3 linked regions of the Homo sapiens genome follow. The protein of the gene in region 3 interacts with the protein of the main gene of each other region in a pairwise test. Each region holds a gene or a part of one and is shown on either strand. Other genes may lie near its edges.

Region 1 (3,653 bases), on a different chromosome or scaffold from region 3:
AAGTTTTTATGTTCAGGTACTGAGACTTATTTTAAGCATTTTAAATACATAGGTCCAAAATGTTTATATAATTATGTAACTTGTTAAACATCCTTGGACATAAAAACTTTCCCCTGATGGTTTAGGATCATTATATTGAACGTAAACTATTTGATTGTGTGATAACATAATCGTGCTGATTTTTTAGCTTTTTCATTTTTGCCTCTATGTCAGACCACATGACATTTTTTGGTAGCGTCTGACTCATCAACCCTCTTTAAAATGCTGCTTCTCACATTTCATGGGTTAAGAAACCACACAACTAACTTAACTGTGTGTTAAATAGGAGCCAACTAGGATCTAAGTGCAGGTCAAATTAAAAAGTAAACAATTCAATATAGTAGCTTTTTGACAGCTATTTCTTATAAATGGAGGTCTTCTGCACAGGTTCAGTGGCCAAAGTTTTCCAAGTCTGAAACTAGCCTAAAGCAGGTCCTTAATTAGTCCCAGAATCTAAAAATGTTTATTTTCTCAGACCTAAATTTGAGATAGCTTGCTCCTTTTCTACCCGAGAAAGAAGTATTGGAGAATGTTTATCACAAACCTCTACCACCTACATCTGGTTTCCAAAAGCAATAAACTTACACCAACCACTGGCAAATCAGGTAGTAACCTCAAGCGGTGGTCCTGACAAAATTTAATGGAAGAATAATCATGTAATTCATCTCTCCTGTCTTCACCTCCACCTTCATTGCTGGAATCAGGTCAGTCTGCGACCACCTTAGGAGTACATAGTTAGGGTTCCTTCAAAAAGCAACTTTACTACAATCAATAAAGAGGCCAGGTGGTCAGGTGAATTGTACCTCAAAACCAAATAGAAACATCCTAAAGGCAGAGCCACAGGAAAATTCTTGCAGGAATTCCATGCCTCTGTTCATCTTCTTCCTGCTAGTTAGAACATCCTTCCCACCTTGTCACCTGGTCAACCATGGCTCATCCTTCACCTCCCAGCTCAAGTATCACCTACTCAGTAGTCTCCTGACTCCTCACCAGATGCAGTAACTTTCTACTTTGTGCAACCTACCACTGCATTTTGTACACATTTCTAACATAAATCAGATAACAATGTAATTTGCTTACTTTTCTTCTCAATTTCAAACTGAATTACCTAAAAGCAGAATGTTGCTTTCGTTTTTGAAAACCCTACAACTGAGAGTGCCTGGTCCACAAATAATGGTTTTTGAGCAAGTGGAGTTCAAAAAGATTTCATACCTAGCACTGATCTTTCACAACTCTATTCATTAGGAGATGTGAAAAATAACTTCCATTATAAAAATAAAACCACGAAGTATCACTCAGTCACTTACATAATCAAAAAGGAGGAGGCCGGGCGCAGTGGCTCACGCCTGTAATCCAGCGCTTTGGGAGGCCAAGGCGGGCGGATCACGAGGTCAGGAGTTTGAGAGCAGTCTGGCCAACATGGTGAAACCCCATCTCTACTACAAATATAAAAAAAAATTAGCCGGGCACAGTGGTGGGCGCCTGTAATTCCAGCTACTCAGGAGGCTGAGGCAGGAGAATCACTTGAACCCGGCAGGCAGAGGTTGCAGACAGCCAAGAATGCACCATTGCGCTCCAGCCTGGGCAACAAGAGTGAAACTCCGTCCCAAAAAAAAAGAGGAGAGAGGGAGAATAAACAGAAACAGAAACAAACCAAAAGTGGTTATCCAGTATTATTTGGGATTAGCTTCTTAATTTGAAGACAGACAAGTGCACCACCAATTAAAGATAATAGACACCTAGCGGAATCTAGGTGTCTACTTCTTGGTCTACAATAAGCTTCTTGGCAAAGCACTACTAGAAAACCCCCGCCTAATCAGTTTCTTTTTTCGGCTATAAAGCAGAAATCTAACTAGTCCTTCAACATCACCTCCAGAAAAGTATTTCATAAAATTTACATCTGAGAGAGTTAAACCACCAGCTCCTGGCCATAAAGATACACAGGCAGGCCGTACATGACAGAATGTCATAAAATTAGTTCCAGCATGGTCATCAGTTCAGCCTCTAAACTTGAGAACTCACCGACAGCACACCTCACATGGGTCCACCCAGAGAGTGAGCTCCTTTGGCAAGCCCAGGTCACTATACAAGATGCAGCTGTTTTCACAGGCTTTCAGGACATCAGGATCAACTCTCTGAAATTTATTGACACGAATACATCTACAACAAAGTGGAGTTACGTTAATGGATTTAAATGAATTTAATCATAAACGCCGTAATATCTATTCATACTTGCCAAGGTGAGTAATAAAATAGTAATAAAAAAATACCCTGGTAGAGAACCTAGGAGCATATCTATCCTAAACAGATAATAAATGTGAACTACAGGCACAGAGGCAGCCTGAAAAAAAGATGGCACCTATGTGAGCCCAAGGAAATCACTAGTACTGGGTCTACCTCAGTCTACCCAGAGACTTGACCACCCATGTACATTAAATGAGCACGGAGTATGAAAGTTGCACGAAATTTTAGAACTCTGAAGGTAAAAGTTTCTATAGGCCAAGTTCCTATACAAAAAAATCTCTAACAAAAGGCCTCATCTAATGTTTCAGATGGTATTTGGAAATGCTTACGACAAATTCTGATCTGTCATTAACTTGCTTTTATATCTCAGATAGTAAAGTGGTAAGAGGACACCCTTGCTTTACCTATAATTGTTCTATAAATACAGGATAAGTGAAGGACACAGATTCATTCATATCATATACTTATGATTAAAATACCTAACTAACATGTTATTGGCTTATTTCATTTAACTTCTATTTACCCAAGCACTTTTATTTAAATAGTTGTCAAAATTAAGTGAGGAAAATTTCTAAACCAATAAAGCCTCTGTCCCATCTTTTTTTAACCTATTATACGACATCTACCTAATGGAATGTTTAATAAATAAAAAATATGCATTCTGTTAAATGATAAGCATTCTGATTAAGTAGGGAAATAGGGCCTATGAAGGAAAAGTATTTACTGCCTACAATCAAGAATCAATCAAGAGAACTTGGATTTCAGCACTAATCCTAGTATTTATCAGGTAAGCCTAGTTAAGTCACTGTACCTCTTCCTCAGACCTGTAACTATAAAACATGGAAATACAAGTTAATTGATGAATAGTAATTACGCTGTAAAATACAATGATATAAAGACTAATGTGCTATTTAAAGTTTTTGTAAAAGTTAAATTATTAGTTGGTTTTAATTTCTATTTAAAAAATGAAAAAGTTCTCAACAGGTAATAGGAATAAGTGTTTCTACATAATAATATTAACAATAATAAGCATTTTAAAAAATTTATTATGCAATGGACAATTTCCTAAATGCTTTGCATGTATTAACTCTTAATTCTCATGATCATCCTGTGAGTTAGATACTTTTTTCCTCAGCATAAAGAAAAAAGGAGGCAGAGAGAGTTTGAGTAACTTCCCAACATTACACAGCTACTAAGTGATGGATCTAGGGTTCAAATCCAGGCCACTAGACTCCAAAGAGCAAGTTATTTCCTTAATACTCAACCCTGTATATACGTACCTATCTTAGCGTCACCATTAACAATATAACAAAGGCAAAGTGAGAAAAATTATTTTCTAGTATGTAAAATACTGCTTAGTCCTTTTAAAA
Region 2 (3,653 bases), on a different chromosome or scaffold from region 3:
TCCAAATCAGTGGGTCTAGAACTCTGATTTCTTGCAGAAGCTCTTGAGGTCTCACTGCTGCCTATGGGAGCACCCAAGCATCTTCTCCATCAGCCCCACCACCACCCGGTCCCAACTCCTCCCAGCTCTCCCTCCTGGCATGTCTTGTCACTCCCTGGGACATGCATTCTATCACTCTCCAGGTACTCCAGCCACCCCCTTCCCCCACTCAAGCCCCCAACCCCAGGTCCTTCAGAGGCTAACCTCCCTACCAGAGAGACTCCCCCGCACCTTCCTTCCCTACGTCCCTATACAACAGCATCTGCAGTAAGATGTAAGTCATGGCTTAATGCAGGGACCACTCCCCCTTCACGACACACAGCGCTTCATAAACAGCAAGTGACTAATAGTGACTAACCAATGGAATCACCAAAGCAAAGATGGCTATAAACAGCATAATGTATTATCTCCTCTATAGAGCAGTGTCTCCTTCTTTTTTTTTTTTTTTTTTTTTTTTTTTTGAGATGGAATCTCGCTCTGTGGCCCAGGCTGGAATGCAGTGGCACAATCTTGGCGGCTCCCTGCAACCTCTGCCTCCCGGGTTCAAGCAATTCTCCTGCCTCAGCCTCCTGAGTAGCTGGGATTACAGGCACCCGCCACCACATCCAGCTAATTTTTGTATTTTTAGTAGAGACAGGGTTTGGCCATGTTGGCCAGGCTAGTCTCAAACTCCTGGCCTCAAGTGATCCGCCCACCTTGGCCTCCCCAAGTGCGGGGATTATAGGAATGAGCCACCGTGCCCAGCCCAGAGTCTCATTTTAATAGGGAGGTTCAGGCCCTTAATCCAAAGATGGGAGTAACAAAGAGTCAATCAGCCCCCAAGGGGACCAGACAGGCTAGAAGAGCCCCTGCCATCCACACCTCACAGCATGGGGCCTGCACTACCTCAAGTCAGCTCGGGCTGATGCTCTCAGCCCCCAGGAGGTAAAGTTACACTCTGGCTGTGTCTGGCCCCAAGTAGTTCAAGGGATGCTAAACTAACAGCTTTGTTAACTGTTACCCTCCAAAAACACATAGACACACACATATTTCATATCCATCCTCTTGGGGAGGTGGAGAAAAAAGAATGCTGAAAAGTACAATTAGGCATTGTCTTTGCTCCACTCCGTGTGGCAGTATCTAAAAAATTACACCCTCTGGCAATGAAATTCTTACAAGTACTGTAAACAAACAAGTCTAAAGGCCCAGCAGTAATACAATCTGCCTTTTTAACAGAGTACACAATTATAGTTAAGATACCTTATTGAGTTCTTCAATTGCCTGTACCAGGTTGAATAATGGCCTAATCTCTGGATCATGTGACTTTATTTGGAAAAAGGGTCTTTGCAGAAGTTATTAAGTGAAGAATTCTGAGATGAGATTAGCCTAGATTACCTGGGTAGGCCCTAAATGTCCTCATAAGTGTCCTTATAAAATAGAGAAAGAAGGAGTTTTCACACAAATAAGCAGAGGGGGCAGCCACAGGAGGAAGGAGGCAGACATTGGGGTGAGGGGCGACAAGCCAAGGAATGTTGGCTGCCACTGGAAGCCAGAAGAGGCAGGGAAGGATCCTCCCCTAGAGTCTCTGGAGGGAGCGTGGCCCTGCCAATACTTTTTAAGACTTCTGGCCTCCAGAACTGTGAGAGAATCAATTTGTTACTTTAAGCCACCAGAGTGGTAATTTGTTATAGCAGCCACAAGGAACAAATAGCTTCCCTGAAAATATAAGGAATCTATCTGATGCCCTTTGGGACGCATTTCCAGGCATGGAGAGACCCTCCTTGGCAGTGGGGAATGACGCCACCTTTCACCGGCAGCCTCTCTCTCCTCCTCACTCTAGCCCTTCAGCGTAGTCTCAGGAGCCTCTGACAATTCCTCATTGACTCCACCGTCCCCTCTGCTCCCGCACGTCCATGAGACCCACGGAGAGCAGAGTCTTCACGAACTCCCTCTCAGGCTCCACTCCCAGGGCTGAACCAGCCCATATCAGGGTTTTGCACCTCCATGAGCTATGTCAAAATAGGACCCTATGAAGCTCCACAATTGGTTAGCAAGTGTCTACACTGCAGACCACTCTGAACAGAAAGGACAGCCCAGGTGGCTCTTTCCATGAATCTAGACCTCATTATCACAGCCGTACGATTACAGTCATCCTAACAATTGGTGTTGGTTCCCACATGCCAGGCTTAAGGGTGCATGCTAGGCTTTTCTTTAGGCAGTTCTTCCTGTACCTTCCAACTTCTGTGCAAATGCAGTATTTCCAAGCATTTCTCCCCACTCTCTCACTTCTTGCTCTTTCTCTAGCCCATCCTCCTCCCTTTCCTGAAGGTGAAAGGACAAGGCAATGAGGTGATCTATGGTGCTGGGGAAATACCCCCTGGAAACCCCATCCAGCCCCTCATCCTCATACCACTCATTCCAGCCCCTCCTCCTCATACCGCTCAGTCCAGCCCCTCAACCTCATACCGCTCAGTCCAGCCCCTCCTCCTCATACCGCTCAGTCCAGCCCCTCATCCTCATACCGCTCAGTCCAGCCCCTCCTCCTCATACCGCTCAGTCCAGCCCCTCATCCTCATACCGCTCAGTCCAGCCCCTCCTCCTCATACCGCTCAGTCCAGCCCCTCCTCCTCATACCGCTCAGTCCAGCCCCTCCTCCTCATACCGCTCAGTCCAGCCCCTCAACCTCATACCACTCAGTCCAGCCCAGGCCTTGGGCCGTCGTACCAAGGCCTTCCGTGAAGCAGGCCCAGTGTGGTAAGTCGAAAAATGGCCTCCCAAAGATAGGCCCACATCCTAATCCCTGGAACCTGAAAATGTCATCTTTAGGGGGATGGGACTCTGCAGACATGATGAAGTTAATGGTCTTCAGATGGGGAGGCTGTCCTGGATTAACTGGGTGAGTCCTAAATGCCATCAAAAATGTCTTTAAAAGACGGAGGGGATCAGATGGACAAGCAGAGAAGAAAGCAAAGTGAAGACGGAGACAAGAGAATAACATGGCCACAAGCCCAGGAGATGCCCATGGCAGCCACCAGGGGCTGGGAGAAGAAGCAAAGTCCAAGTCTCCCCTTAGGTCTCTGGAGGAAGCGTGGCCCTACTGACACCTTGATCTCCAATGAGACTGATTTTGGACTTCCAGCCTCCAGACTGTGAGGGAATCACTTTCTGTTGTTTTAAGCCACCAAGTTTGTGGTCATTTGTTACAGCAGCTGCAGGAAACTAACACCCCTGGTGTGTGCCCTACCATCATCTGACACCTTGATTCCCAAGTTCTGCCATCAAGGTTCCCTCCATGAAAACCCTGAGCCCTTAAGCTACCTCACCTTGGAGAAGGTTTCCTATTAAGCTCCCTCTCAATTTTCAAATACCAGCTCATTATCAGCTTGTTTTCATCCACCCCCTGACTTACAAGCTCCATACTTACAAGTTGATAATACTGAAATGGAATGCCGTTCTTGATTACACAAAACCATTTAATCGACTTCATCTATAACAACTGAAATGGGGAAAAAAAATGAATGGGAAATTAAGGAAAAGTCAATCAGTGATCAGCAAAGGGAGACATCTAATTCAATTTGACAGTAATCAGAGGTTTGCAGGCAAAACAAAGCTAACACTGACTCTAACTGGGTAAA
Region 3 (3,653 bases):
TGTTTTTTTTTTGTTTTGAGATGGAGTCTTGCTCTATTGCCCAGGCTGGAGTGCAGTGGCGCAATCTCGGCTCACTGCAACCTCCACATCCCAGGTTCAAGCAGTTCTCCTGACTCAGCCTCCCAATTAGCTGGGATTACAAGCACGCGCCAACATGCCCGGCTAATTGTTTTGTATTTGTAGTACAAACAGGGTCTCACCATGTTGGCTGAGCTGGTTTCGAACTCCTGACTTCACGTGATCCACTCATCTCGGCCTCCCAAAGTGCTGGGATTACAGGCGTGAGCCATCGTGCCCAGCCTGGTGACTTCTTTATTTAGAAAAGGAGCCCCAAATCCTAGTGGCAGCTGTACTTTAAAGTATAACAGGATTCTCATAGCGCCCTCTGTTGGAAATGTTTCTCTTCTGAGAACCAGGATCTTTTAACCCCTTGCCATCAGAGCTATGGAGATGGGAAGCAGAAACTGCCCAGGTGATTCACAGAGTGATGCTATGCGGAGCCACTCCTAATTTCATGTGATCTTCCTACTGGGAACACTGGAGAATGGGCGCCTCACCCTTGCAGGGCATCATGCCCAAGCTGCAGGATCTCATCATCAGCTGTGCCATCAAAGGACTGTTTTACTGCTCTATCAAGTCATCAGCTTCTGGACGGTGTGGTGCAAGATGGGACAAATGATTCTCCTATTCTATAAAAGTGGGTCCCGGCCGGGCGCGGTGGCTCACGCCTGTAATCCCAGCACTTTGGGAGGCTGACGTGGCCGGATCACGAGGTCAGGAGTTCGAGACCATCCTGGTCCACATGGTGAAACCCCGTCTCTACTAAAAACACAAAAATTAGCTGGGCGTGGTGATGTGCACCTGTAGTCCCAGCAACTCAGGAGGCTGAGGTAGGAGAACTGCTTGAACCCGGGAGGCGGAGGTTGCAGTCAGCTGAGATCACGCCATTGCACTCCAGCTTGGGCAACAGAGCAAGACTCCGTCTCAAAACATAACATAACATAACATAACATAACATAACATAACATAACATAACATAACATAACATAACATAACAGTGGGTCCCTTATTCTGAAATGATCCCTGTAGTAGAGGATCAAACATCCTGCAAGCCCTCAAACAGTAGTCCTGGGTGAGACCCTGCTGGAAAGACAAATTCAGACCCAGAATATGTCTCAAATCCAATCAAAATGAATCATGGTCCTTTCCACTGTATAAGGACTGGTTGGCCTGCTTGAAGGATGATTGATCTCTGCTGCTGTCAGGCTGGATATTCAGCAGCAGCAGTTGCTAGATCAGCACTGGTGAATGAAAACCCTTTTATTGGGCCCATGCACAGCCATCATCGGTAATTTTTCCATGCACTCATAGGCCAAAAGAAATACCAAACAGTAGTGTTTATTAAGTAGTTAGATCCAAATAACAAGAATTCATGTCCTAACAAATGAGTAGACATTTGAAAAAATAACACATAAATTGGAAGAAAAATATTTTTATTTCCTTCTTAAAAACTACAAATACTGGGCCAGGCGCAGTGGCTCACGCCTGTAATCCCAGCACTTTGGGAGAACGAGGCAGGCGGATCACGAGGTGAGGAGTTCGAGACCAGCCTGACCAATATGGTGAAACCCCACCTCTAGTAAAAATACAAAAATCAGCCGAGTGTGGTGGGACACGCCTGTAATCCCAACTACTCAGGAGGCTGAGGCAGAAGAATCACTTGAACCTGGCAGGCGGAGGTTGCAGTGAGCCGAGATCGCACCACTGCACTCTGGCCTGGGTGACAGAGCGAGACTCTGCCTCAAAACAAACAAACAAACAAAAACTTCAATTACTTGATAATATGACATGTGTGCCTGTTAGACACAGAACAACTTCTCAAACTTGGAATCAGACTGAACATGCCACCCTCCTTTCCTGTTCCACACTGATTTTTGCACAGTGCTTGATCTGTATCACAACTAGTAAAAATCCAACCCTGCAAAAATATGACATCATCAAAAGAAATGTGGCATGAGCTAATGTCAAAACCGTGAACTACCTCAAGCTAGTAATTTGTGACAGATATTGCTGTGTTTCCTTTAAAATTCTGAAATATCCCATGGTATTCTTTTGTGTCTGTGGTGGTGCTTTGGGGTGCCTTGGTGCAGTTTGGGAACGTGTGTGTGTGTGTGTTTGTGTGTACAGTCCCTTCCTCCCTTCGCAGATCCAGCACCCCGAACTAGGTGTTCTTGTGACTTAACCCTAGTTGTTGGTTTGGTGATAGTCAGTAGGCGAGAGAGGAGGAGCTGGGGGTAAGAGGGACAGCACAGTCTGCAAGCAACCCCTCTAGCTAGTAGAAGAAGGCCACTTCTGCAGGCCCAGAGGGTTAAGAGGAATTTGGGGTTTCAGGGTTTTCAAGTGCACTCAGATGCCCCATCCTAAGGGTCAGGATTCCTGCCCAACCAGAACACTGACCTTAGCATAGCTGAGAGAGAATTCTACCTACCTTGGTGCTCTGCTACCCTTAAAATTAAGTTTTGGGTTGAAGCCTTAGATTTTTCCTCTTACTGTATATGTGTTTCTTTACATGATGCTAAATAAATTTCCTTTTACATTTTGCCCCCAATTATCTTCCACCTTGCATCATCTTTCTCCAATCTATCAATGTTATTTACCAAAAGCCATCTGATGATTGTCCTCATAATTAATTTCTCTGAACTTCTCAAAAGCCTAGTGCACTCACCAGTGCATTCCCTTCAACAGGAATAGCATTCCAACTCACCACCAGTGAAAGTTTTAAGTTGCATAGCTACAGTGCATGCCAAGCGTTATCAGTATTAGTGCTCCATCTAGCACCAGAATCGATTCTCATTGCCAGCCAGCCAGCCAATAATCCAGCTTCAAAACCTCACTGTAAAGTCTACTTTCTGAGACCACTCCTGGCACCAACTGCTTTGGGTAGGAGGGTTCCCAGGAAACAGACTCTCAAATGCAGATGTGCACACCGGAAGTTTATTGCGGAGTGCCCTCCGAACCAACAACTGTGGGGCAGTGAAAGACGTAAGACTGAACAGAGGAAGGAGTTGATCTGCAATGCAGTCCCAGGAAGCCCTCAGCCAGACCCATGGGAGAGCTCTCTGGTGTTGGGATAGACTTCAAGGTTGGCTTGTCTTATAGCAAAAGCGCTAGGCATTTATATCCCTACACTGTATAGATATTAGATGTAAACTGCCCCTGAAGAGGAGGCATGACTCTGGGGGAGGCAACTCTTGGCTCAGGGCAATGCGTGGAGTGGGACTCAGCTGCAATCAGTTTTAGCTGCCAATATTGCCAAGAGCTAGGGGAACATGTGCCTGAAAGCGGGATCTGAAAGCCTAACCACAGCACCTGCCACACCACCACTGGACTATTACACCAATTTGGCTAATGAGGGAAGAGAATTAAGCATTTATGCTGCTGGATTAGGAGAAACTACATTTCACTGACAGTCAGTGAAGGCCAACTCTTCTTTGCAGAAGAGTACCAGCTAATAAACATAGAAGAAATAACAGAATTATTTTTTAATTCATCATTTTGCAACCCCTAATGAAATTATTGACTCAGACAAGGATTATCAAAGAATGCTAAAAGCATTAGGTAAAAGGCATTCACAATGTGCTCAAATTTTTACC

What was found.
Region 1: the proteins of MYCBP2 (region 3) and BTG3 interact in a two-hybrid assay, tested with the Homo sapiens proteins (one large-scale study listed by BioGRID and IntAct).
Region 2: the proteins of MYCBP2 (region 3) and HUNK interact in a two-hybrid assay, tested with the Homo sapiens proteins (one large-scale study listed by BioGRID and IntAct).

Annotation. Positions count from the first base shown.
Region 1 is NC_000021.9:17,602,799-17,606,451, forward strand, and holds part of BTG3 (protein BTG3), read right to left. Parts: intron 2,200-3,653; coding exon 2,062-2,199; intron 1,479-2,061; coding exon of another isoform or gene 1,347-1,478; intron 1-1,346. UniProt on the Homo sapiens protein: Overexpression impairs serum-induced cell cycle progression from the G0/G1 to S phase.
Region 2 is NC_000021.9:31,918,002-31,921,654, reverse strand, and holds part of HUNK (hormonally up-regulated neu tumor-associated kinase), read right to left. Parts: intron 1-3,653.
Region 3 is NC_000013.11:77,316,951-77,320,603, forward strand, and holds part of MYCBP2 (E3 ubiquitin-protein ligase MYCBP2), read right to left. Parts: intron 1-3,653. UniProt on the Homo sapiens protein: Atypical E3 ubiquitin-protein ligase which specifically mediates ubiquitination of threonine and serine residues on target proteins, instead of ubiquitinating lysine residues.